4 linked regions of the Homo sapiens genome follow. The protein of the gene in region 4 purifies or fractionates together with the protein of the main gene of each other region. This does not show direct contact. Each region holds a gene or a part of one and is shown on either strand. Other genes may lie near its edges.

The links.
Region 1: the proteins of CDH19 (region 4) and YEATS2 purify together in Homo sapiens (affinity purification with mass spectrometry; 2 studies listed by BioGRID and IntAct, with this or other methods). This does not show direct contact.
Region 2: the proteins of CDH19 (region 4) and DDX11 purify together in Homo sapiens (affinity purification with mass spectrometry; 2 studies listed by BioGRID and IntAct, with this or other methods). This does not show direct contact.
Region 3: the proteins of CDH19 (region 4) and MARK1 purify together in Homo sapiens (affinity purification with mass spectrometry; 2 studies listed by BioGRID and IntAct, with this or other methods). This does not show direct contact.

The regions. Positions count from the first base shown.
Region 1 is NC_000003.12:183,804,857-183,810,259, forward strand, and holds part of YEATS2 (YEATS domain-containing protein 2), read left to right. Parts: intron 1-2,009; coding exon 2,010-2,236; exon of another isoform or gene 2,237-3,173; coding exon 3,174-3,248; exon of another isoform or gene 3,249-3,256; intron 3,257-3,873; exon of another isoform or gene 3,874-3,996; intron 3,997-4,240; coding exon 4,241-4,314; intron 4,315-5,162; exon of another isoform or gene 5,163-5,403. UniProt on the Homo sapiens protein: Chromatin reader component of the ATAC complex, a complex with histone acetyltransferase activity on histones H3 and H4. YEATS2 specifically recognizes and binds histone H3 crotonylated at 'Lys-27' (H3K27cr).
Region 2 is NC_000012.12:31,093,420-31,098,822, reverse strand, and holds part of DDX11 (ATP-dependent DNA helicase DDX11), read right to left. Parts: intron 4,234-5,403; coding exon 4,189-4,233; intron 4,069-4,188; coding exon 4,001-4,068; intron 2,483-4,000; coding exon 2,444-2,482; intron 2,187-2,443; coding exon 2,078-2,186; intron 1,965-2,077; coding exon 1,833-1,964; intron 939-1,832; coding exon 826-938; intron 647-825; coding exon of another isoform or gene 522-646; intron 1-521. UniProt on the Homo sapiens protein: DNA-dependent ATPase and ATP-dependent DNA helicase that participates in various functions in genomic stability, including DNA replication, DNA repair and heterochromatin organization as well as in ribosomal RNA synthesis.
Region 3 is NC_000001.11:220,628,196-220,633,598, forward strand, and holds part of MARK1 (serine/threonine-protein kinase MARK1), read left to right. Parts: intron 1-2,839; coding exon 2,840-2,939; intron 2,940-4,005; coding exon 4,006-4,118; intron 4,119-5,403. UniProt on the Homo sapiens protein: Serine/threonine-protein kinase. Involved in cell polarity and microtubule dynamics regulation. Phosphorylates DCX, MAP2 and MAP4. Phosphorylates the microtubule-associated protein MAPT/TAU.
Region 4 is NC_000018.10:66,568,986-66,574,388, forward strand, and holds part of CDH19 (cadherin-19 isoform 1 preproprotein), read right to left. Parts: intron 3,332-5,403; 5' UTR 3,220-3,331; coding exon 3,025-3,219; intron 1-3,024. UniProt on the Homo sapiens protein: Cadherins are calcium-dependent cell adhesion proteins. They preferentially interact with themselves in a homophilic manner in connecting cells; cadherins may thus contribute to the sorting of heterogeneous cell types.

The DNA.
Region 1 (5,403 bases), on a different chromosome or scaffold from region 4:
CGCACGCCTGTGGTCCCAGCTACTTGGGAGGCTGAGGCAGGAGAACTGCTTGAACCAGGGAGGCGGAGCTTGCAGTGAGCCGAGATTGCACCAGTGCACTCCAGCCTGGGCAACAGAGCAAGACTCCGTCTCAAAAAAAAAACCACACACACAAAAAAAACAGACCACTGCTGCAGGGCCATGGGGTGTAGGAGCAAGGGATTAAAGGTATATAGGCAGAAGAAGCATTTTGAGTTTCACCTCAAAGAATAAGAAGGGTTGGGCCGGGCGTAGTGGCTCATGCCCGTAATCCCAGCACTTTGGGAGTCAAGGCAGGAGGATCACTTGAGCCCCTAGGAGTTTGAGACCAGCCAGGGCAACATAGCAGGACCTTGTCGCTACAAAAATTACAAAAATTACCCGGGTGTGGTAGCTCGCCTGTAGTCCCAGCTACTTGGGTGACTAAGGTGAGAGGGATCACTTGAGCCCGGGAGGTTGAGGCTGCAGTAAGCCATGAGCACACCACTGCACTCCAGCCTGGGCAACAGAGCCAGGCCCTGTCTCAATAAAATAAAAAGAAAAGTTGTTCTCTGCCCCCAGCCCCATTTATATAGAAAAACAGAAGCTCCACCCCTCCTGTCCAAGGAAACCTGGAGCACAGAGGTGGGGTTACTTTAAGACTTAGGGCCGGGCTCAGTGGCCTCCCACTTTGGGAGGCTGAGGCAGGAGGATTGTTTGAGCCCAAGAGTTCAAGACCAGCCTGGACAACACGGTGAAACCTTGCCTCTACAAAAAATGCAAAAATTAGCCGGGCATGGTGGTGCATGCCTGTAGTCCCACCTATTCGGGAAGCTGAGGAGGGAGGATTGCTTGAGCCCAAGAAGTTGAGGCTGCAGCGAGCTGTAATCATGCCACTCCTCTCCAGCTTGGGTGACAGCGCAAAACCCTGTCCAAAAAAAAAAGGGGGGGCAAGTCCCAGTTTTGCCATTAAGCTTCTTGAGAGCCTAATGCAGGATGGCCTCTCCTTTCTCTCATCTCCTGCAGCGCTTAATATCAACAGCATGAGGGCTTGTCTGACTTCGCTGTGTAAGCTACTCGGAGAGCAGAGACCGTGTTAATGATCCCCGGGCTTCACTGACATTGTGTGGAAAGCACAGTACTTGCACATACTAGGCTTCCTTTTAATCTGACTGATTCCAAACGGCCCCTAACCTACAATGGTTTGACCTGTGATTTGATGTTGTGACTTTACAATGGTCTGAAAGCTGTAGGCATCAGCACATACCTTGACTTACGATGGCCTTGTCCAGATAAGGCCATCGTAAGTTGAAAATATCCTAAGTCAAAAATGATATTTTCAACTTACGATGGGTTTTTCAGGATATAGCCCCAGCCATCATAACTTGAGGAGCAGCTGGAGCTTGTTAGAGCCCAGTCAGTAAAACAAAAGGCCAGGAGCTGGGTGCCCTTAAATCTTGTACCTGGTGTGGACCTCACACACTCATCCAGAAAGTGGAAGGGCACTAGTGCCCTAGATCTGGCCTTGAGGTCCTCACACTCCTGATTAGGTTTTGTATAAATCACCTTATTAGAGACTGGACCCATAATATACATTGAAATGTTAACAGTCCTGCTCTCTGAGCAGTGAGAATAGGGGTGATTCTTTTTATTTTCTTCACTCTGCATTTCTAAATTTTCCAGATTTGAGATGAGGAAAAATCAGGTCAGTCCTTAATACTCAGAGGGAGGGGGATGACCTGGTTTTTGGTGGCAGAAGTGAGAATTCCTACTCTTTCATCTTAGATGGCAGTTACCTTACATAGATCACACACAAGATGCCTGTGTTTATGCCTTTCTCCCTCGTGAATTACTAGTTCTCATCATTATAGATCCATAGAATGTTAGAACTGGAAAGAAGGTCAGCTCCCCTGATGCTTATCCCCCTTCCTCAGACCATGGGTCTCTTGGAGACGGAAAGTCCTCTTCCGTTGGCCCCACAGCTGTTGTAACACTGCTTGCCTGTCATTTAGAGTGCCCATCATCATTCTCCTCTGCTGACAACCTCTGCCGCAAACTGGAGGACCTGCAACAGTTCCAGAAAAGGGAACCCGAGAATGAGGAGGAGGTGGACATCCTCAGCCTCTCCGAGCCAGTGAAGATAAACATCAAGAAGGAGCAGGAAGAGAAACAAGAGGAAGTCAAGTTCTACCTGCCACCAACCCCAGGGTCTGAATTTATTGGGGATGTCACACAGAAGGTAGGGGTTGTGGTGTTAATAGTTCATGCAGCAGACCAGCTCAGAGCTAGATGTTCAGACGTTCAGCTTCACAGACCCAGACCCAGGTGTTCAGCCTCACAGACACAGACTCAGACCCAGACTCTTCTGGTGCCGTAGATGCTTGACTTCCTTCTGCCTGGTTGACCCAGGTGTGCTCTCAGGGCTCCCACCGTCCCACATCAGAGCCCTTGGGCAGAAATGCTAATTACATGTGAAAACATTGCTTGTTGAACGCAGACGTGAAGCAAAGCTGGCTAGATAGAAATGGTTGATTACTCTTCATCTTGTTTTTCTCATCTGCCTCAGTAGAAGCACCTTTCCCTCATGAGGCACGTCGTACTCTTTCTGAGTTGCACGTCAGCGCGTAATCCTCCCCTGATGTGTTGATAGCTCCTGAGTGCCCCGCCTGTGGTGCAGATGGCGTGCACCTGCCTTACTATACAGGAGAGAGGTATTTATCCACCCTGCTGGAGCCTAACAGCTCTTCAGCATCTGCCAGTTGCTCAGGGCCCAAGGTGAAAGACAGTGTGCTTTCATTGGATGCCATGAAGAATGGGCAAGATGCAGTTTCCAAGTGCAAACAGGACGTTGGAGTCTGATTCCAGACCTTTCAAAGTGTTGATTGCGTATCAGAACCCAGGCAGATCCCAACCATGTTCTCCCACGAAGGAGATTTGAGAGATTTTAATAGGATTATAGTCATATTTTAAATATCAGCCAGAAATGTGGAAAAACAAGATAACATTCTTCTAGATGTTATATTCCGTGTTCCTTTCCCGTGAATTTTGCCCAATATGTTTGCAGAGTCCTCCTTCCAACCAGGCATCGCTTTGCATGTCAGGGAGGTATGCTTGTTTGGAGAGAGGCTGTTTCTAAAGCAGCGATACGAACAAACGGCTTTCTTCTGCTTTTCCAGATTGGGATCACCCTGCAGCCCGTGGCACTCCACAGGAACGTGTATGCGTCCGTGGTGGAGGACATGATCCTGAAGGTGGGTGCCTGCAGGGGCCGCCAGCCAGGAAGGATGGTTGCATCCCAGGCGGTTTGGAGTAAGGGGCAAGGACAGAAAAGGAACAAAGATAACAGGCTTTAAAATGTCTCGTCTTATTTGGGCTTAAGTTCTCTCTTTTTGTTTTTTTGTTTTTTTTCCTTCTGATTTTTAAATGGACTAAGTTATGTTTCCTCTGAGTCATGTGGTTTCAGGTGCCTCCTAAGACGTATTCTGGGGGTGGTGGTCAGTGTGCTCGTTGCTTTAGGAGGTGGCAGAGACAAAGCCTATGGTTTTCTGTACACGTCACAACAGCAAACAGCCCCAACTGTCCTGACCCTGGCAAGGGGACGAAAATGCCGCAGCCTCCTTCCCCAGCCTGATCCTAGCTCAGCAGTTCCTTTCCTCGTGGATCCTCTCCAAGAATAGGGATACCTCCGTAACAACTGCTTTCCTTAAATACAATGTCTAGGGCTGGGCGCGGTGGCTCATGCCTGTAATCTCAGCACTTTGGGAGGCCGAGGCGGGTGGATCATTTGCAATCAGGAGTTGGAGACCAGCCTGGCCAACATGGTGAAACCCCATCTCTACTAAAAATAAAAAATTAGCTGGGCTTGGTGGCGCTCACCTGGTAATCCCAGCTACTTGGGAGGCTGAGGCAGGAGAATCGCTTGAACCCGGGAGGCGGAGGTTGCACTGAGCCAAGATCGCGCCACTGCGCTCCAGCCTGGGCGCGAGAGTGAGACTCCATCTCAAAATAAATAAATAAATAGAATAATGTCTGATTAATGAAAATCACTCCAATTCATAATTTCTCAGAATCATGGCCTTTATCATTATGGTCTATTATTGAGGCCTTTAATTTTTTCTTAAGGACTTTTTAATCCCTAGTTGCAGTGGTTTCAAACATTTGGGGTAAGGGATGGGGTTAAATGTGTCCCTTCTTGCCAGCAAGCAGATGGCCATTTGAAGAATAACAGCATCTTCCATTGTAGGCTACAGAACAGCTGGTGAATGATATCCTGAGACAGGCTTTGGCAGTTGGATACCAGACAGCTTCTCACAACAGGTATTACTATCTCTGCAGTCTGTGGTGTGAGGCTTACACCTCTTTCCTAACAGTTGAATTGCCCATGAAGGTGTTTTATACTTACATCAATCCAGTAGGAGATGGAGTGAGTGCTTAGGACACTCTTAGAGCCAGATGAGCTCAAGGGTCTGCTTTGTCATTTTTAGAGAACCTCATGGTTGTGAAAGCTCACTCAGCTTTGCTCAGAGGTTTATATCCTCCTCATTACTTCACAGACACCTAGGACTCTGTTTTATTACAGGGTTGAATAAATATTAGCTTTGCAATTAAAGATAACAGTGTCCATTACATGTCAGACACGAGGGCCAAGCGTTGCATATATTACCTAATTTGTTTTTCATTGCAGAACTATTATTCTCTTTTTAAAAATCAGGAAACCGGGCTTTGAAAGGTAATTTTACCCAGCTTACCCAGCAAATACAGTGTAGACCTGGACTTCCGACTCAGGTCTCATTGGCTCTGAGGCCCCTGGGCTCGCCACTGCTCTTTGCTGACTCGTTGTCTTTGATTAAGACACTGAGTTTCAGTCTGTTCCTAGGCCCTGAAAGGATGGTAGATAGGCCACATCTGCTTTTCTTTCGGAGGAAACAAATATTATTTTATTGCATTATGCTAAAGGCTGTCACAGATTTATAAAATTGTAGCAAAGTGCCTGAGGACATGAAGGGCCTAAATCAGAGGAATAGTAGATGAAACTTCACAGGAATATATCAGACAACATAGGCGTCTTTAGAGAAAAGGAAGGGGAACCAAGAGTTCCGGTCCTGCTGCCCACTGTCCTGCTTGGACCCACAAGTGAGCCAGGGCCTCCTGTGGCCCCTGCTTACCTCTGTGCTCCCTGTCCTGGAGGGGTAGAGTGACTTAGGTGCTTTTGATGGAACGATTAACATCACGCCTGGCCTGGCGTGGCTCCGTCTCCCGTCTTTCTAGGAGATGGGAAATAAGGTCCCAGAGTTTTGTGGTGCTTTGACTCAGCTTTCGGTCTGCTGAGACTCACTCACAAATGTGTCATTCCGTTCTGCCATCCGCTTTGTTTTCTTTCTCTTTTCTCAGTTCTCAGAATCTTTT
Region 2 (5,403 bases), on a different chromosome or scaffold from region 4:
AAGGGGCTCTCACAATGTGAACGTCAGAAACAATAATTACTGTAAACAACTTTTAATATGCCGAATGAATAAAACTATGAATCTATCCATACAAAAATATAAAAATCAAAAGCTAAGGCAGCTGGGGCTGGGAAGCACTGCTTCAGGATTCCCAGCAGCTTTTTGTCCAGGAGGCCCTTCGCTAGGTAGGAGTCACCACTGTGCAGAAATGCGGTTATATTTATCACAGTCATGCTCAAAACAGAAAACTGCAAATAGCTTGCACACCTAACAAGAGAGAAGCAGCTACATGAAATGCTATATATCTGTGTAACTGGAATCCAGCACAGCTGGGATACTGAAATACGTGCATGCTTGCTGACAAGGAGACAGGGTTTATGACCCTCTGGCTGCTGAGTGAAAAGAGCAAGTTCCAGTGACAGCACATGGAGGGAGCCGTACTTTTGTTTTTAAAACAGCTATGCACATAAGTAAAAATTACGCCTACAAAGACTATTATATTCATATACATCAAAATGAACCTTTTAAAAGTGGAATCATGATTTTTTTCCTTGAGTTTGAAACCACAGAACAGCTTTCTCTGGGAGACATGTGATCCTGGGGCTACAGAATGGAGCAGCAGAGGAGTCTCCACTGCTCCTGCAGCCTAAAAGGCACAGCAGTGAGAGAATAGCAGTGTCACCCAGCGGACACCACTGGGCCTGCTCGAGCTGACCCTTTCTGGCTTGGGGCCCCAGGAGAGAACAGGACTGATAATGCATCTCTCCCAAGCCCCCATCTCATCCCAACACCTGGGGCACGAGGGGCTGGGAAAGGTGTCCTTACCGGCTGCATGGTACCCCCCGCAATGACCACTGCCCGGCATTCCTTCACCACTTGGGCAAAGTGCACAGCTGGATTCAGGAGCAAAAACTTCAGGGTGCTCTGACTGAGGCTGCCTGGAAAAACAGATCGGTGGGAGGTGAGTGCAAGCCCAACAGACACTTCTGTCGTCCCAGCAAAGGGGGTCCCCCAGGTGAGTCCAGGTCTGAGGCACAAGTGCTAGTGCTTTCTCTTTAAATTAAACACCATTTAATCTCTAGGACAACCAGCCCACAGAGGTGGACCACACTGTCCTCTCCATCCTTTTTTTTTTTTTTTTTTGAGATGGAGTCTCGATCTGTTGCCCAGGCTGGAGTGCAGTGGCTCAATCTCGGCTCCCTGCAACCTCCGCCTCCTGGGTTCAAGCAATTTTCCTGCCTCAGCCTCCCGAGTAGCTGGGACTACAGGCACCCACCACCACACCCTGCTAATTTTTTGTATTTTTAGTAGAGACGGGGTTTCACTGTGTTAGCCAGGATGGTCTCGATCTCCTGAACTCACGATCCGCCCCCCCTCAGCCTCCCAAAGTGCTGGGATTATAGGCGTGAGCCACCGCGCCCGGCCTATCCTCTCCATTTTCATATGAAGAAACTGAAGTTGAGAAAGAAAATAGTCCAAATCACAAGGCTCATAGATGACAAAATCATGACCCAAACCAAAGCCCACCTACCCCACAGTAGAAGTTTCCCTAGGACCCCTGCCCTAGAGGACCCCCATCCCAGCTCCTCGATCTCCTCCCGTCCACCTCCACTGCTTACCCTGGTCACGGGACCCCCATCCCAGCCCTTCGATCTCCTCCCATCCACCTCCACTGCTTGCCCAGGTCACAGCAGGCCAGTGCCCACTGCACTGCTTCCTCCTAACCCAGGAAGTTCCCAGGATGGAAGGAAAGAATCCTTTCACGCTGCGGCTCCCGGGCTCAGCTTGGCTCCTTCCTGGGAACTGAACCTGGCCAAGAACCACCTGATTACCTTGGCGGCTCAGGATGACCCTGCCGTCCTGGTTGGCCGTAGTGAGAGCTGCCAGGAAGCCTTGGATGTGCATCAGTGGAGAAGCTGGTCGCAGGGTGCTGGCCTGACTCTCGTCTGCAGGGGCTGCAAGAGCTGCACAGAGCAGAACGGGGAGGAGGCCTCCCTCTGGTCAGGTCCACACATGAGGAACAGAAGTCCTTGCCCATGCGTGCAGCCGGCTCTGCCTGCCCACCCTCCTGCCTCACCTTCAGTCGTCCTGGGCTGCAGGCTCTGCAGGAATTGCTGAAACCCAGCCAGTTTGGGCTGCTCCCGGGATGAGAACACTGCTCCGTACCGTTCAGTGAATCCAAAGAGCTGGGTGGGATGAGAGAGAGCAGTGGAGAGGAACGAGGTACAGCCATGAGAGAGAGGCTGGGTGGATCGGAGGCTCTGCCAGGCCCAAGACACCTGCAGCACACATCCCACCACCCCAGCAAGGCCCACTGCACCAAGGAGAGTGGAGACGAAGGGGACTCTGGAGTTCCCTGAGGGCAGGGGAGGAAAGCATGGCAAGGGCAGGGGGTTGGGGCACAGCTGGGTCTTGTTCAGGACCACAAGATGGGAGCAGTTACCTTTCTGCTGATCATGCTCTTCTCACAGTATCGCTGCACCTGCAAAAACCAAGCCCAGCTGTAGGCATGAGTGCAAACTGAGCAAGCTATAATCTTAAAAACAAAACAAAAAACACCACTTCTACCACCCAGGCAGCACAACGCAGTGCTACCTTCTGAGGCACCTGGAGCCTCCTTGCCACCAACCTTGTCATCTCCTCTCCGAGGCCACCCCCTCCTCTACTGCCCCTGCCCACAACGCAGTGTCCTCCTCAGGGTGGAGACCCTCTTTCCAAATGTCTCTCTCAAGTCTAAGAGTGCTCAGTAAAATCCAGTTCCCCTTGGCTTTCCTTCCAGGTGACAAAGAGTTAAAAAAAAAAAAGGAACTTCTATGAGCAAAGCCACAGAGGAGATGATGGCTGGGACCTGCTCAGGGGCTGGGGCAGTGCCACTCAGTCGGTGCATCCAATGTGTGTGGTTTGGTGCCAGATCTTAGCTTGGGATGCAGAGATGAGGAGTTTGGAGCCTTTAAACCGGTTTCTAAAAAGAGCGACGTCCTTCGATGAGGATTCCCTCAATGGTGAGTGATGAGACCCGAGACCCATGGGAAGAAGAGGGGAGAAGGAAAGCAAGGAGGGCAAAGGGAAGGCGAGAGAAGGAGTGCCTGCACCCATGTCCCAGCTGTGGGAGAAGCGCAGGGACGGCAGGACTGTCTCAGGCTGTCAGGCCTGGCGGCTGTCACAGGCATGTGGGAGACAAGGGGAGAAAGGCATCAAGGATGACCTGGATCCAGCCTGTCTGGCAGGGATGGCGGCAGTGACAGTGACCCAAATGTGTAATTCAGGGGAAAAGCTGGTTTTAAGAAAAAAAAGGCAGGCAGGATGGGAAGAATGTGGGGCCCCAAGTCAGTGCAGCCAGGTTTGGACGCTGTCTCTGCCACTTGCTATTGGCTCACTTGTGGGAAGCCTGTGCTCGCCACCCTCCTGAAGTCACCTCCACGGGCCTGTTTGCTTTCCTTGCTGGGGCAAAAGGATATCCTAGCTCAGAGCACAGCACATGGCATGCCGCCTACAACAGAGGCAGAACCCTGTACCCGGGGGCAGTCACTGTTGCTGATTTGAGTTACGAGCTTGGGGTTCAGGCGGCAGTGGCCGTGTTTCATCTGGGGAGCGCTGGGTACACAGACCTGGAGTGAGCAGAGGTCTGAGGCTGCAACCAGACCCAAGGCCCAAGTGGGAAGACGTGACAGGGGTTGCACAGAACAAATCAACGTCCTATTCCTGTCCATAAGCCTGAGGGAGACTGTGCCAGAAGACGGAGTGAGAGAGCAAGGACCTGGAGTCTCTATCTGTTCTATGGGGCACCAAGAAAGGTCCCTTTCTCACCCATCCCTCATCCCTGTGGCCTTCACTCTAAAAGAAGATGACTTTTGTCTCACAGGCATGTTGCGTTAAGGGTTAAGTAATTACACATCTGTTTTGCTTTTTCTTCCTTCTACAGTCTTAACATAGTACTTTACCCACAGGTGGTGACAGGAAGGAAATTGGATGTGGAATGTGGAAAGGTGGAAACCTCTACCTTGAACAGGTTGATGTTGTCGATCTGGCTCTGGAAGAGAAAGTCGTTGATGGTCTTCAGCTCCGTCCCTGAGAACAAACACATGAAGGGCCTTGGGAGCTTCACCCTAAGCCTCAGGTTTCAGTCCCAGGGTTAAGCTCGGAAGTGGCTCAGATCAGCTCTGGGCCCTCTGAGGGCAACTCTCTTACCTGTCTGTGACAGACTCTGTGTATTGGGATTTTGCTTAATGTTCCCTAAAAAAGAGAATGGAAATAGGTCACAATGCTGGTTCTCAGGACCCCCAACCCTTCCCTATCTTCTCTCCCTCCACACTGCACATCAAGTAAGAAGAGCATCTGTATTTAAATGGCTTTGTTTTGCTTTTCACTGTTTATAGCATGCAACGGACCCACTGAGAGGGCAGGTGGGTCCAGGAGCCTCCCATGTCTGACTCACGTGCTTGCACGTGGAACCCAAAGCCCTGTAAGTTCATGTTTTTCACCCCTTCTCCAGGAGGCCGGGACACAGCAGCCAGACCAAGGTATGCAGGGCACCGGAGCACAGAGGAGCTGCCCAGGCCACTGGTGAGCCTGAGGCAAAGCAGAGCTGGTGGCTCAGAGCAGCAACACGAGACCAGCTCCCGCCAGGAGCTCCCACAGGCTTTCTGCAGCTTCCACTTCCACAGACGCCTTCCAAGGGGGTGCCCCATCATAAAAGAAGGGGACGTGACAGGGTCATGCAAAGAGGCGTGGGAGCTGGAGTCAGAAGATCCCAGGCTCCCGTGCTGGGAGCAGCCCTTGCTCCGAGCTCTAGTTTATGCGTCTATCAACAAGGATTCAAATACCAGCACTGCGTTCTCACAGGGCACACAAAACCGCATATGCAAGTGCTTCGAACAACCCACAGAACTATGCCTATCACGGAAACACCGTGTGTCTATGTGATGCTGTATCCTTAATATCCCCCCAGAGCAGGGCCTGAAATAAAAAGTCCTCAGAACATGGGCAAAGAACCCATGGGTCTAAATAAAGCTCAAGTCAGACAACTCAACTAAGCTACAAAGAACAAGAATTTTCTAAATCAATGACCAAGACCCTTCTTTTTTTTTTTTTTTTTTTTTTTTGAGACTGATTCTCACTCTGTCGCCCAGACTGGACTGCAGTGGCACAATCTCGGCTCACTGCAACCTCCGCCTCCCGGGTTTGAGCAAGCAATTCTCTTGTCTCAGCCTCTGGAGCAGCTGGGACTACAGGCCACGGCAACACTCCCAGCTAATTTTTTTGTATTTTTAGTAGAGATGGGATTTCACCATGTTGGCCAGGCTGGTCTCAAAACTCCTAACCTCAGGTGAACCACCTGCCTCGGCCTCCCAAGTGCTGGGATTACAGGCGTGAGCCACCGCACCCGGCCGACCCTTCTTAAAA
Region 3 (5,403 bases), on a different chromosome or scaffold from region 4:
CTGTAACCAACTGAACCTTATCTCTATCGACTCCTTTTCCTCAGCTTTTATACATACGTGAATCTCTTCCACTAAAAAAGGCATCCTTCAACCTGGCAATCCCCTTTCAGTGCTGCCATCTTGCTCCTCCTTTGTAGTGAGCCCTTTTGAAGAGTATCTACACTTAAACCATCACCCATTCCTCACCAATCCATTTACTTTCTGGTTCCTAGTGCCACCACTCCACTGAAACTTCCCCCAGCAAAGTCCCCCATCTCTGTTGCTAAACACAAGGGGCTACTTATTTAGGCGTCACCTTATTTGACCATTTGGCTATATTTGACAGGACTCTCCTCTTCGAACTCTTTCCTCGCCTTCCATGTCATGCTGTGCGGGTTTTTCTTCTTGGATTTCTTTTCTTTCTAACCTTTAAATACTAGTGTTCCTTGAGGCTGTAATCTGAGCCCTCTTCTATTCATTCTTACACTATTCATTCTTCCTGGAGAATCGCACCCACCCCACAACTTTTGTACAGCATCCTCTGTAGGCTAAGGATTCCTGAGTCTCAATCCCTAGCCTTCCAAGAAAATATGAATTCTCTAGAAAGTTTAATTTAAAAATGTATCATGTGGCTGGGCATGGTGGCTCATGCCTATAATCCCAGCACTTTGGGAAGCCGAGGCAAGCAGATAACTTGAACCCAAGAGTTCAAGCCTGGGCAACATAGTGAGACCCTGTCTTTAAAAAAAAAAAAAAAAATCATGTGATGATGACTGCTGGAAAAGCCTCCAATCCAGCACAGCAGTATTCTTAAGAGATTCCAGTTGTTAGAGATCTTCCCTGGATTTCTTATTTTCTGGTGATTAGCTTTAGGTAGATATTAATAAATGAGGGGAAGGTACCTGGGCAGTCAAGAAATTAGCCTTCAAAAGATATATATATGGGAAGTTATTTTTCTAATTAGTGGAATATTGGCAAGTAAAGTTTAAAGATGGAGAATGTACTTTACAGGACCTGGAAAAAGCAATTAATATATCAGCACCTAAAATGAAAACCTAAAATTCTGTAGTAATAAAAAGTGAACAATCTTTCTAAATTAATACAGAATTATTCAAATAAGTTTCTTCCAGTTTTCCATTGCCTGACCATGAGTATAGTAAATTCTCTACAAGATTGCCTTTTTTTTTTTTTTTTGGTGGTGGTGGTGGTAAAAAACACGTAACATATATTTACCCTCAACAACTTCTAAGTGTGTATCACAGTGTCGTTAACTATGTGTACATTGTTGTACAACAGATCTCCAGAACTTTTTCATCTTGTGTGACTAAAACTCTGTACTCATTGAACAAATCCCCATTTCTCCCTCATCAGCCCCAGCAATCACCATTCATCTTGTGTGACTAAAACTCTGTACTCATTGAACAAATCACCATTTCCCCCTCATCAGCCCCAGCAATCACCATTCTATTATACTTTATGTTCCTATGAGTTTAACTACTTTAGATAATCTGTATAAGTAGAATCATGCAGTATTTGTCTTCTGTGATTGGCTTATTTCACTTAGCATAATGTCCTCAAGGTTCATCCATGTTGTAACATATAACAGGATTTTTTTTAAGGCTGAATAATATTTATTTGTATTTATGTACCACATTTTCTTTATCAATTCATTTGTCAATGGACATTTAGGTTCCTTCCACATCCTGGCTTTTGTGACTAATGCTGCAGTGAATATAAGTTTCTGAATATCTCTTTGATATTCTGCTTTCAGTTTTTTTGGATAAATACCCAGAAGTGGGATTACTGGATCATATGGTAGTTCTATTTTTAATTTTTTGAGGAACCTCTGTACTATTTTCCATAGCAGCTGCACCATTTTAGATTCCTGCCAGCAGTTCACAGGGGTTTCAGTTTCTCCACATGCTCACCAACACTTGTTTCTTGTTTTTTTGATAGTGGCCATCCTAATGAGTATAAGGTGATAGCTCACTATGGTTTTGAGTTCCCTGATGACTAGTGATGTTGAGCATCTTTTCACACAGCAAGCATGCTTGTTGGCCACTTATGTATCTTTTTTGGAGAAATATCTGTTAATTACTTTGCCCATTTTTTATTCAGGTTATTTGTTTTGATGTTATTGAGTTGCAGGCATTCTTTACATATTCTGAATATTTACTCCTCATCCAGTATATGTTTTGCAAATATTTTTCCCATTCTCTAGTTGGCCCCCACAAGGTTGCCTTTTAACAGCCCAGGACTGTCTGTTATTTCACAGCCTTAGCTTAATCTGACTCTGGTAATTCACATCAACCCCAGCTTGATTCTTACCTAATTCCTAACTCTAGACTTAAATTTTGACTGCCTTCCCTTCCCACATTATCTTAGCTATCTTTATTGATAGCTTTACTGCCAACCCTGATTTTCATTCCCCATGACCTCTTCTTTACTAATATTTTAGTAAATGATGATTTTAAAATAAGGCATATATTTGGCATAAAACAGGAAAAAATTATAATCTCTGTATTAATCTTAAATGTAAAAATCTGAAACAGAAGTTAAAATCTGTTTTATAAGAAGTAAATTCTTATGTTAAAATATCCAAATTTGAAAATATTCCCTTTGAAGGAATAAGAGAGGCATGCTATTTTGAATCAATGCATTTGGTGAGTGTGTAGGGAGATAGTCATAGTTGTTGTGTGTGTCCCAAAGTCTTACACCTCTTTTTGGCCCACTAATCAAACTAGAAATGTCACATGAAACTTCTTGAGTGAACTAGTAATTTTACATTTGCTAAAATAGAGCTATAATAAGTGGCTGAATGTTCTGATTGACCACACATAATGTAGAGTTTATTTCCTAGCAAATAATGAAAGATCGATGGATGAATGTTGGTCATGAAGAGGAAGAACTAAAGCCATATACTGAGCCTGATCCGGATTTCAATGACACAAAAAGAATAGGTAAGTATTTAAACATGGTAAGAAGTGCTGTCCCTAGGCAACAAGTAAGAGTCCTTTAGTGTGCCAAAATAGTGTTTAAGAGTATAAATAGGAAGCAATTTTTATTTGAAAAATACTTGCATTGTCATTTTAATGATAATATGCTGAAAATTATACATTTCAAGTTCCCTAATTTGTTCCCATATATATTATGGTCTAATTCAATGTTTGACAACAGTGATATAAAACCTAATGTAAATAAATCGAATTCTTTCCTTTCAGTGATGCCCAGCAGGAGGAATGGCTGATGTAACTATCAGCACTGATCAGACTGATAAGCATCAGCGAACATAGCATGTATTTTAACCAAAGACATAGAGGCACCGAATTAAGAGTTGAACACTTTGGCTCTCCCTTTCTTTTTCCACTGTCTTAGCAATGTTTATTCTCCCTCCTCACTCGTCCTGCTACTGCCCATACCCAACCAGAGCTCTCCTTCTAACTTGTTCTCTTCATTTCACAATCCCTTCCCAAAGCCATCATTTAGTCTCAGCTGAGTCATCTCAACTGTGTTCCTATCTGGCTTGAGGGCAGAGTGGCAGGGGAGAGCATTTTAGGGTGTTAGGAACCTGATCAGAAAAACCATGGAAATTCAAATCTCCCAAAGAAGAGTCAACCTACTGCAAATCAGAAAGCAGAAAATTTTAAGAGATGAAAGAAACCACTTCACTAGTAGCTGAGGACGAATTGAGAGAAAGACAGAGAATTTTGTGTGTAACAAAGACTGACATGGTCTTAGACTGGACAAAGAAAGTTAGCTCAGGAATGTATTAGGCAATGAGAAATTAAGTGGGCCCATTAATATATTAACCATGATGTAGGTAATTTCTGCATGTAAAATTATCATTGTACAATATCTGTGAACATATGGTATCCGTAGGTTAATAGTCCAGAAGTTTTTAAAACTACACTTTAAATTTTCATGACTAAGTTTTCATATTCAAAGATGGCAAACTTGCCCATTTTTGTTGATTTGTTTACGAAAATAAAACCATTTTCAGAAAATTTCTCTTTTTTAAATTTCTAGACATTATGGTCACCATGGGCTTTGCACGAGATGAAATAAATGATGCCTTAATAAATCAGAAGTATGATGAAGTTATGGCTACTTATATTCTTCTAGGTAGAAAACCACCTGAAGTAAGTTTTTCACCTTTTCAGATTACTGTGAATTATTTCTTGAGCTAATATATTAGTTAATATATTCTTTGTGGAATCAAAAATAATATAAAGATCCTACCCTAACATTCTTATTTATTGGAATTCAAAAATCAAGATGTTAAATTATGAACTGGTTGTATTTCTGGGTACCAAGAGAGATTTTATGAAAGAATAGGTCTACTGTCTTTCTTAGCTCCAAGAGCCACCATTCACAGCCTGGCCTTTGAGAATGGCCTCCCACACAGCTTGTGCATCCAAATGTAACAGTCCCACCAAAGGTAATATGGTTATTCCAAGTGTGCAGAAAAGACAGTGAGTGAAACATGAGGAAGTGATAGCATTTAAAATAAAATGTATGTCTTAAAGGATTTTTAAAAGAGGTAACTCCAGGAAAGGTTATTTGATGATATTTTGCCTTATAAAGTGTCAAGTGACTGATGCTTTCAATTGGGAATTCTCAAGGCCAGGAGAACTATAATAAGGAGATGGATTCAGGAAATAACTGCATACAAATGGTGAACTATGTTAGTCAGTTTTGCATTGCTATAAAGAAGTACCTGAGACTGGGTAATTTATAAAGTAAAGAAGTTTATTTGACTCACAGTACTGCAGGCTGTACACAAAGCATAGTGTTGGCATCTGCTTCTGGTAAGGGCCTCAGGAAGCTTACAGACATGATGGAAGGTGAGGGGGAGCCAGCATGTCACATGGCAAGAGGGAACAGGTGAGAGGTGGGGGAGGTGCCACGCTCTTTTAAATAACCAGATCTAGCGTGAACCCGTAAAGGGAGAACTTGTTACCACGAGGGCAGCACCAGGCCATTCATGAAGTGTCCACCTTCCTGACTCAAATACCTCCCTCTAGGCCCACTCCAACATTGGAGGTCACACTTCAACATGAGATTTGGAGGGGACAGAGCATCCAAACCATATCATGAAGCATAAAAGCAATGATTCTTTAGGAAAACAAATATAAAGGCTATACATCGAGAGTCAAGAACAGATCGCAGAGCATTAACAATTTATTGGAAGTTAGACATCTGTGGGAGGTATTTTAGAGAGAAAAAGCTGAAATTATTTATAATTCCGTAGTAACTGTTAATGGAGCAGTGCATTCCAGCTGACATATATTGAACCTTTATTGTACCAGAAACGATGCTGTGTACTGTGAATAGAAGGACGAGAAAGTCTCTGCTCTCAAGGAGCCCTTAGTCTAGAGACGAGGTGAGCAGTTAATAGTATGGTACAGTATGTGTTCTGATTTG
Region 4 (5,403 bases):
GCACAACATAGTTGGTTCAGTTTTTATTTATAATTAAATTCTCAGTCACTAAAACTATACTCTCAAATATTTATACTAGATTGGGTCCTTGAGATAGATAGAAAGACAATTTAGTGACATTTAAACACTGATGTTCTATCTCTTGCATGAATATACATGGAAACAAGAAAATATTAGGATGAAAATTAGGGTTCATAAAGATAATGATAATCTTGACTGTTCATTAGGTATTTATTACATGTCATAAAATCTATAAATTGCTTTATATTAGTGTTCTCAAGTAATTCTCATATCAATATTATGAAATACATATTATTGATATGATCAATTTTTCTATAGAGAAGAAAAGTGAGATTTTGTTTTACAAACTTTTTTCAGAGTCATATGGTCTTTGTGTAGATATAGAATTTACACCACGAGGCTATCAAATCTTCTATGAGGCTGTCAAATTTCAGACTGTCCACTGACAACAACTCAGTTACATCTTCTTTAGCCCTTGGGTTTTAGCCATAAAGTATAAAACTTTCTTCTCAATATATTCTACCTAATTCTCAAATACACACTTTCAGCCTGTGCACTCATTTTCATATTTTCAAAAAGCAAAGTAAATTAGTTCATCATTCATACTGTTGAGGTATTATTTAGAATTTTTAATTTATCTGTAAAAAAACCCGTCTAATTCTGATATAGTTAAAATGATCACATAGCTTTTCATATCAGAATTATTTGTATGTAAGAGAAGAATGTCATGGTTCCCTAATCATTGTGAATCCACATTTTCTTGATTCACCATTTATGAAAATGCTCTTATTCACAGTAAGAGTTCCTCTGAAAATTTACAAAGATAATCATGAAATCAGTTGTAAACAAATTCATGATTTTTCTGATGGCTTAAGTTATAATTTCTTATACTGGATAAATTAATACACTTTCTTTGCGGTTGTGGAGAAAATCTGAAGGTACTAGTAACTAATTTTGCATTTTAATAACATGCCGAATATCAATGCTATGTAATGAAAAATAACATCCAGATTGTCTTTCTGGTAATACTTCTTTTGATAGTTCTTAATTATTCCTAAAAGAAATTCTTCATGCGATGATGTAAGAAATTGAGGAACAAATTATACAATCAAATCAATATATCAAGTGAGCAATGTATGGTTCATATTTTTAAATTATATCATTTCAATATGATTTGATAATTTATTTGATATTATAATGAAGATAAATTAAGTTTAGTAATAAGTAAATATATTGCAAGTATATGTGCAGTGTAATTTTCAAAGACAAGTAAGCTTGACATTTTTAAGACCCAGATTTAAGGGAAGACAGAAACAAAAACGAAAAAGCTTACTTGAACACCAGCCTTTTAATGTCATAAAATGCATATGTTAAACACATTTCAATCAAATGGCCTGTAGTATTATACAATTTTCTATATTTTTATTCAAAAAATATTTTCCTAATTAGGCTGCTACTATCAATTTGCTAAACAAATATCACTTCAAATTTTCACTTAATTGTACTTCCCAATCTTAATCATTTTTCAAACAAATGGATCAAAGAGAGTTATCTTGAACGCAGCAGCTAAATTGTATATTTACTAACTCTTTTGACAAGCACCTAAACATTCATTATTGTTCTTTTTGAAATCAGTGATTCACTTGTTTTTTAAGCCTGATGAGTTTGTGTAGCAGAAAAACATTTTTCAGAGTAGTTTCATAAATATGTCTCTGAAATGAAAAAATAGGCAAAACCAATCACTGTGAGAAAGGAGGTAAACAGAGATTCATGTGGGGAGTAGAAACAAACAAACTAGAAAATGTGACAGCCCCAGAGGTGGCCTGTGTTCCAATTACACTGATGCACTTCCCTATAACACCTTATTTACTAAAAGCCAATAGCTGATTTTAGCCTGTCACCCCATTCAGTGATGGGAGAGTATATGGTGTTCTGTGCAGTCCACTGTAAAGGTAGCTAGAGACTCAGTTACTGAGTCGGCACCTAACTGTGGACCTTCTTAGTGCCAACTGTGCGTATTATTTACCTGTAGTCTGAGTCGAAAATAAAAGGGGTTGAGAAATATTTCTTGTAATGTGTGTGTGTGTGTATGCGTGTGTGTGTGTGTTCACAATACACCCTCCTCCCTGCACGTTTGGAAATACTTGCCTAAAATCCTAATCTAAGGCTTTGGTTGAATGTACTCATATACATTTGGCTGATAACACAGGTGAAGTTCTATGGAATCCAGATACCATGCTAACACTGCAGCTCTCCTGAAAGGGCTAGAAAATGAGAGTTAATAAATTTTGAGTGCTTCACCCTTTGGGCCCAATTAAATTTTAGTGCCAGTTAATTAGCGGTTAAACTTATTTCAGTTCATTTATCTAGAGAAAAAGCCTTATGGAAAAGGACATGATATTGTAATCACCTTTGTTTAAAGAAAACCAAATAATAAAATACAAGCCAAAAACATAAATAGGAGATGCTTTGTCTCATTAAGGAATTGTTCTTAAAATATATTCTTTTAAGAAAGTGAACATAATTATTCCTTTTACTTTAACTTTACTAATCAATTTAAGTGTGTAGGCTCCTGAAGCTACTTAACTGTAGGAGAATATGGTATTAACCTGCTTCATTAAAAATGAACGAGGGGTAAATCAACAGCTACTTAGCGTAACAGAAAATCGGGCTAAATACTGTTGGTAAATGATATTTGTCTCACTGTGACTGCTTAGATTCATTACCAAAAATAACGCAATAAAGTTTCCAGATGTTGAAAATGAGGGCTGCATTTTCATACGGGATACTGAAGTGAAATTTAAAAACCAGAGCTATCCCTCTTCAAGATTTTAGTGGATGTTTTAGGTGCTTGCAAATCTGAAACAATTATTGATGCTGCTGTTTGAAGCTTTTCAATGGCTTCACTGTAAAAATGTGGAACTCATCAAATCTCCAAACTTCTCCAACATATTTATTTACATTGTTGTGCTATTTACTGTAACATTTTAAATAAATAAGTACCTGGCCGATGTGATGACTAGTCGTATTCATTTCCTCTGGTACAAAAAATTGGTTCCACACCCAGCCACGCTTCACTCTCAAATGAGATCGCACTGGCTGCTTGACTTTCTTTGTTTGAGAGTTTTCTGTTGCTCCAAGACAAGGCCATAGGAGAGGAATTCCCAACATAAAACGCAGCAGTAAATAACAGTTCATTGCGTTGACTCTTTTGATTCCAACTATTACTCTTCAGAGGAAACAGGACGTCACTAACAAAAATCTTGCTTTCTTTTATAATCTTTTCTGATTCTGTGTACCTTCTATATACCTAAAGCGTCAGAAACAAAACAAAATTTGACATTTTAAAATAACATTTTCTCACATAATTACTAAAGACAGGTTACAACTTCTGCATCTGACAAAAGTGGAATAAAAATAAACATTTAATTTATCTTCCAATTAAGCTGGCTAATTATGATTTGTAGCTCAGCAATAATTTGATTAGAATAATTATAAATTTCCACTCAGGCACTGCTAGTTTTAAACTGCAGTCATAAATCTGCCTGAAAGTTGAAAGATTGCTCTGGGAGTCTCCTGGATTGACAGCTGACATTGAGATAGACTTCCTTTTAATTTGACTTGCTTACTTTCTCCATTCTTTCTCAGTAAAATACAAACTATCTCATTAAAGCAACAGTCAATCCAGGAGGAAAAAAGTCTTATTTTTCCTTTTTATATTTGATAGAGATAAGCTTCCTCATCCAATTTCCCAAATTATGGTATTTTATGTAGTAATTAAATAGACAAAATGACAATTCAGCTTAAAACTGGTGAATTCAATAATCAGTTACACTGATACTATAAAACACTGAATAGAAAGCTTGCATAAGATATTTACTCTTTTTTAATTTCAAAGATATGGGGAAGAAGTGTTTATCAGCTTAACAAAAACAAAATCCTCTTAGGACAATAAATACAAAATGATTGTTCCTGGGTAAGAATGGGTGAATGTTTGTAATATGTAAGAATGATATGAAATGTATCTTCTAGTATTTAAATATTAAAACAAAAGACTCTGGCTATTGAGTTTTACATTTAAAACTTTCCATTGACCCAAGGCTCTCTCTTCATGATGGGTACCTCTAATCCTTATATGTAACTTAATAGTTTTGCATTTCCAACATCTACATCCAGCCAAATTTGATTTATTTTATGAAGAAAAATAATTTTGTAAGATTCACAATGGAGTTTAATGTCATATAATCAACAGAAAAGCCAGAGTTCATGTTAGGACTTTTTCTACATGATTGTGTTTTGAATCTTCTGCATGTATTTTTGAATGACTCCTTAGAGATTTTTTAGGTCTTTGGCTCGTGTTAAGAGGAGTTGTTAAAAAACACCTAATTAAGAAAGTACACAGGGATTCTGTGGTCCCGGTATACTCCCTTTAAGCAGATGTATTCCTTGTTAAAAGTTTACTTAATGAAGGTCATAGAGAAATTCAACTGAGGTGAAATTTATCTTTATGTTACGTATTTGAAATTCAGATAAATCTGCTCTTTAGAAATTGCTAAAATATATATTTTTGGTAGCTGATGAATAAAAATATTTGGAACTGGTACAATATTATTCATGAAAAAGATTTTTTTTATAAGTTTGGCAAATTATTACCAACACTGATATGAAGTTAGCTGGCTGTGTTTCAGTGAATATAATTTTTGGGAACTTTATATTATGGTATTTTGATACATATAAAGATAAATAAAATAGTGTAATGAACACCTGGATATCATTACCCTGTTTCAGTAATTACCAACACATGGTCAATATTGTGTCATTTCTACACGTGCTCACTTTTTAATATTAAAACCAATTTCAAATTCATATCATTTTAACCACTGAAGCCACACACACACACACACACACACACACACAAGTATACATGTTATGTAAGTGTGTATACACACTTTTAAACATCAAAGCTTAAAATTAAGAAAAAATTTTAATATAATAAAATATTCATACAGTGTTCAAATTAAAAATCTTTATCTTTGAATTAAGATTTAAATATGTCCACACAATGCAGTTTTTTGGTACATTTCTCAATTCTCATTTGGTCTACAGGTTTCCTCCAATTTTTCTTTCCGTTTATATGCTGAAGAGTCAAGGTTATTTGTCCTACAGAGTTTCACATAGTCTGAATGTTGCTAATTGTATCACTGTTGTGTGATTCAGTATGTTTCTTTATCCTCCATATTTTTTATAAATGTTTAGGGGCTTGATTAGAAGTAATATAAAATATTCATCAAAAATATTCATAGCCAATCCTATTGCATGACATCTTTAGTAGACTAGGACACAAAATATATGTTCAAGAGACCAGAAGAAATGTTGAACGTG